Linked DNA regions of Homo sapiens: region 2 is linked to region 1. The links come from fine-mapping of genetic effects on gene expression. Tissue or cell type: lung. Region 1 holds a variant in brackets; the other region holds the start of a gene. All regions are shown on one strand. Distances are from middle to middle.

Region 1 (2,841 bases):
GCCGGAAGCCTGGAGCTCTCTGGGGTGAGACAGGAATAGGGCTCAGCACCATCCCCACCCTGGTTAGTCCCCACCCCAGGCCAGCCAGCTAGCTGCAGCAGCGCTGTGACTCAGAACCCCACCCCACCTTTCTCTCTACTGTGGCTCCGGGCACGGCAGCAAGACGCTGACCTGGCCCTAACATCCCACCCTCTACAGGCCCCAGCAGGATCAGGCCAGAAAACACCAGCTTCCCTGTGGAGTCGGTGGGGAAGGGGCCTCCAATGCAAGGAGGCAGCCAGTGGCCTCCCCCACTCTCAGAGAGGGGTCTGGGCGGGACAAGTCCCCAGAGAGCCTCCTGAAAGGCTGTTGTAGCCCTTCGTCCCCAGGGATGTCACGATAAGTCACCAGAACCTTGGACCCACTTACCCCAGCAGCAGCCCCACCTCCAGGGCAGGAGTGCTGACGGGGCCACAGTCAGCAGGAAACTGGGACACACTGCCAACCTGGGTGCACTTCCTTCCTCCACACGGCCCGTGTTGGGCAGGGCAGCCACTTCTTCCTCATGGAGCATGGAGGAGGGGGCCACATTCTGCTGACACCAGCCCAGTGCCAGAGTCGAGTCCCTGACCAGGGACTCTGGGCAGAGGTTGGGGGTATTGTGTGCCAAGGGTCCTCCCATGGACTGAGGTCACCAAGAAAGTGGCAACGAGGGCAAGGGAACCTGGCCTCACAGCATCTGTGCTCCTGGGGCATGCCCCGGAAAGCCATTGCTACAGCCCCAAGTGGGCAGACGAAGAGCCTCTGCCAGAACCCCCAGGCAGTCCCAGTCCCGACCTAGGGCCTGTGCCATGGGTGCACAGACCACTGCCGTCACCTTAGGAGCCTGCCTGCCGCCTGCCTGCTCACAGGTCTACACAGGGACACGCTCAGTCCCTCTGCTCAGGGGCTGGCTCCCCTCTAACAACCCGGCTTCTAGGGCCTCTGCCCTGGGTCTGCCTTCCTGCTTTTATAGATGTCTCCACTTCTTCCAAGGAAATCGGGGTCATCAGGCATAAACAACCTCAACTTCCCACCCCATCTCCTCAGAGACCAAATCCTATGTCACCAACTCTACCTGTCAGAAAGCAGTTTTTGTTCCAATGTCCATTCTAGAAACTTTTGTGCCTCCCTCCACCTGCCTTAGACAAGCTCCCAAAGAGAACAGCCACCCCATGCCATCTCTGCCTCTCACCTTCCACTCACTCCTCCACAGAAGTTGGGCCTCAGCCAGCCCCACG[T/C]TCAGCAGTGCCAGCCCTGCCAAGAGCCCAGGGATCGCCTCGCTGACAGACCCCAGACACGGGCCACGCCACCCCGTCCTCTAGGTACCTGTGCCCCCAGTCTCAAGCATCACTCCGTGTCTCCCTCACATGCCTTCTGGGCCTCTAGCCCTCAAAGAGCTAAAGTATGTGAGCACTTTCTCAGCCCTTTAAACGGATTAAGTCATGTCATCCTCACAAGGCTGCTGTGTTTTATTACCTCTGTTTCAGGTGCAAGTCATCCCCGGGAGGAGTGGTGGGGATGCCGCCCGACCCTGGGCCACCTGGCTGCAGCATCTGTGTTGATGACCACCCTCCTGCCTCAGGCTTTGCTCCTGAATGTTCTTGCTCTCTAGGTCTGTCTGCTCCTGGCCCTGCTCTTCTTAACTCCGTTCAAGCCCCTGGGTCACACGTCCATGCTCATCACTTCAATGACGCGGATGCTGGCGATCCCCAAATCTCCTCATCCAAGTGCAGATCTTCCTCCAACACACCAGACCCCACAGTGCAGAAGGGCCTCTGTGGGTGCCTCCCACCACCTCACCGCCCCCTTCCAGTCCCACTCCCTGGCTTGGCATTTTGTGTTTGTGTGTGGCACCACTCACCTGGGTGTCTCACCATCCTCCTTCCTCAGAAGTCCAGTCTATAATCAAATCCTGCCAATTTTCTCTCAATATTTTCCAAATCCATTCCCCTCACCATCCCCACTACCGCAGTCCTGAGCCTGGCACCATCCTCTCTCACCTAGGCCACCATCACAGCAGCCTCCCAACCAGCCTCCCATCTCCAGGCCAGCTGCTATGCTGCAGCCAGAGGGCTCTCTGGGAGCCGTCACTGTTCTGCCTAAAAACTTCAATAGCACCCCGTCGTCCAAGCTCCTAACTTGCTAGTGCTTGCCACCCACCCACCTCTTGGTTCGACCAAGTGACATGGAACTGCAACTCAAGGGCCCAATTCTCTCATCTCCGGTCTGTTCAGGAAGTCCCCTCCACCCAGAAGGCTTTCCTTTTGACTAACTCACACTCATCCTTTGAGACTTGGCTCAGTTCCACCTCCTCCAGGAGGCCTTCCTGGATCCCCGGCTGGGCAAGGGCCCTTCTCCGTATGCCCATCATTTCCTGTTCACACGTCTTGTAGTGCACTGGTGACACTGTCGGATGATGGCAATGTTTGATGTTTGATGATGATGAGGAGGGTCTTTCTGCGCTCTTCTCTCTTTTTTTTTTAAGACAGTCTTGCTCTGTCGCCCAGGCTAGAGTGCAATGGCATGATCTTGGCTCACTGCAACCTTGAACCTTGGGTTCAAGCGATTCTTCCGCCTCAGCCTCAGCCTCCTGAGTAGCCGGAATTACAGGCACCCGCCATCATGCCCGGCTAATTTTTGTATATATATATATATTTTTTTAGTAGAGATGGGGTTTCACCATGTTGGCCAGGCTGGTCTTGAACTCCTGACCTCAGCTGATCCGCCTGCCTCGGCCTCCCAAAGTGTTGGGATTACAGGTGTGAGCCACCGCGCCCGGTCTTTGTGCTCTTCTTTTCCACCAAGCTGACAGCATCTTCA
Region 2 (2,670 bases), 55 kb before region 1:
TCGAGGCGATAGCGAAACCCCGTCTCTTTAAAAAACAAAACAAAACACTATTAAATCTAGATAATGACAGGGTTAGGGAAGTTCGTTATATTACTCTACTTTTCTGATAATAAATTTCAACGACAAAAAGTAAACGAAAATATAAAAGCAGTATCAAAAAAGCCAAACCCGTTTCTGGGCTCCAGCATCCTTCACTTCTCATCACAGCGGATACAAACAAGGTATCCTGAGTCTCACCGTATCTGCTCCATGGCTTCCCACGTCAGGGTCCTGGGCGGGGCACCAGGCGCCTCCATTTGCCTCCGAATTTTCTGGAATCGGATTGCTTGTTTCTGTCGTTTCAGGGTGCTGGGGGAAGAGAACCAATGGCAGAAGCCATGCGTGGAAGCAGAATGGATGTTTGAAGAGCCTCAGGCTAAATCATGGAGCGCCCAGCCCTCTTCTCTTTGATCGCAAGGGCAACCGGGCCATGTTGCCGGCTTAGAGCTGCTCCGTACACCCAGAAAGCTAACACCTAGAACAATAACTGCCTGTAAGCATGCCGAACTCTCTAAACTGATGATGAAATACGTCACTAATGAAGGGACCAGTGGTCCCAGGGGAGCTGAACACCTGACGCTGCGCCCCTAACAACGGGTAAGAAGAAACAAGGGCCGCTGCGCAAGCAGCGGCAGGACACCCGGCGCCAAGGGGGCGCGGCCTGGAGCGCCGGGGCACGAGGCCCTGCTTCAAGCTGAGGGCCCGGGGAGAAGCCGGTACCTCTCCACCTCCTGCAGCTCCCGTTCCTCCGGCTCCCAGTCGGAATCGGGGTCCGGCTCCCGGCCAATAGGGCCTGGGCCCGCCACCCCCCGGGTCGCGAACCCACAGCGAGTGACGGCGGCGCAAACGCGCCCGCCCAGCAAGAGACTCAGGGTAACCGCCATGTCGACGCAAACCAGCCTTCAGCAGTCGGCTACGAAACAGCAGCGGAAGTAGCCGGGTAAGACCGGAAGTGGAAGGGGCGGGCCGGAGGCTGGGTAGTAGCAAGTTATTTCCCGCTTCACTTGGTGGGGGTAAGATCTGGGCTCACGCTGCTCAGTGGCCCACCCTTTCTGCCTGTAACTGTGGAGAGGGCTTCCCTGAAACGTGAGGGCCGAAATGAGGTACAGGACGCTCCTGGAAAACTGCATAAACTTTAATTAAAGTACGGATTCCGTTTCCAAGAGCCGTCCCTCCGCCCCAGCGGCTGCCCAGGCCTGCCTGTCTCCGCCACCTCGGTGGGCAGGGCTTCCGCTCGGCAGTCTTCTGACGGCGACAGCCCAGTGCCTTGGGCACTCGGCTTCTCTGGGAAAGGGGCTCATTGTCTCCTGGATGGCCTCCAGCCCCGGGCCGCACCTAGGGTTCAGACCCATCACCTAGCGATAAACCCAGGCTAAGGCTTGATGAGCAGAAATGAGTACATGGCTGGCCTTGGCGCCTCTTCATCTTCTAGTCTTTACCGATCCCCAATTAATCTTAGGGTATTGAGGAATTCTTGGTGTCTTTGTATTTTGCCTTATACAAATGGGGTTCCTGGGCAGGGCTTTTCAAAGTGGAACTTGGTGGCAGTCATTCATTTAGCAAAGATTTAATGCCCTTTGGAAACCTGGGGAGGTTATCCAGGAGAGGTAGAGTGCTTCCCTCCTGCTTTTACCTGAACTGATTGATGTTGAGGAGTGCTCTGGAACGCTGCAGCATGGGTGCAGACGCAGGGCAGAGGGGAACCTTGGCTGCTCTGTGTTCAGAGTTTACCATGGAGGGCAAGGTGCATTCAGTCCATGAGTCAGATGCCACTCTTTCCGGTTGCAGAAAATAGCCCTGCTTTGGGGTTAAAGTGGGTGGCACTGATCCTGCCAGGACTCGGTTTATGGCTTCTAGCCTTCTGCTGGCTTGTCCTTCTGCAGTGGAAACATGGATGTCCCTGAGTTGGTATTCACAGAAGAGATTTGTTCACCTCTTTCCCAACTGTGGCCCAATTACCAACACAGAGGAAGGGCATCTCATGCTTCCCTCCACTGTCTTTCCCACACTGTATTGTAATTGGTATGGTATGTCTTTTTGTCCATGTTCCTATTACCTCTTGAGTGCTGGGACTGTATTTCTGCCATTTCTATCACCAGGGTCTAGTGTACAGAAAGGATTAAATAGGCCTGGTGCGGTGGCTTACACCTGTAATCCTAGCACTTTGGGAGACTGATTCAGGTGGATCAGGAGTTCAAGACCAGCCTGGGCTACGTGGCAAAAACAAAATATACAAAAGTTAGCCGAGCATGGTGGTGTGTGCCTATAGTCCCAGCTACTCAGGAGGCTGAGTCAGGAGAATTACTTGAGCCCGTGAGTGGAGTTTGCAGTGAAGTGAGATCAAGCCATTGTACTTCAGCCTTGGCGACAGAGCGTGACCTTGTCTCAAAAAAAAAGGAGTAAATAAATGGGTACCCTAACTTCCCCATTCTTACACTGGTGGAAGTGCCATATTATATTTTAGGGGCATCCAAGCTCTATGCTTGCTAGTGGGATTTACATATGTCAAAATGACCAAAGCTAGTTTTGCATACTTACGGCTAGTGAGCCTGATTCTGGCACTGGAAAAATAGCACCTCCCAGCCTTCTTCATTGACAATGAACAGGAGTTGATGGCTGCCGGCTCTCCTG

Evidence for each region. PIP is the estimated chance that this variant, and not a neighbour inherited with it, causes the effect.
Region 2: it holds the start of NGRN, and the variant in region 1 is the best candidate, but not a certain one, in a credible set for the expression of NGRN in lung (TOPMed, PIP 0.61).

What each region holds. Positions count from the first base shown.
Region 1 is chr15:90,209,230-90,212,070 of GRCh38, reverse strand. All of the region lies in intron 1 of SEMA4B (semaphorin 4B), which reads right to left. Among named protein-coding and RNA genes, the nearest start is that of SEMA4B, 9.3 kb to the right of the region's middle. RefSeq lists enhancers at 1-816, 2,352-2,401. The variant T/C (reference allele first, on the strand shown) is at 1,260.
Region 2 is chr15:90,263,966-90,266,635 of GRCh38, reverse strand. It overlaps NGRN (neugrin, neurite outgrowth associated), which reads right to left and starts at 964. Exons shown (of 3, transcript NM_001033088.3): 1 at 760-964; 2 at 238-348. The coding sequence starts at 923. It overlaps TTLL13 (tubulin tyrosine ligase like 13), which reads right to left. Exons shown (of 15, transcript NM_001396017.1): 14 at 2,578-2,670; 15 at 1,159-1,916. The coding sequence ends at 1,669. It also overlaps a transcript of CIB1 not described here. RefSeq lists enhancers at 10-980, 774-1,003, 1,364-1,493, 981-1,952.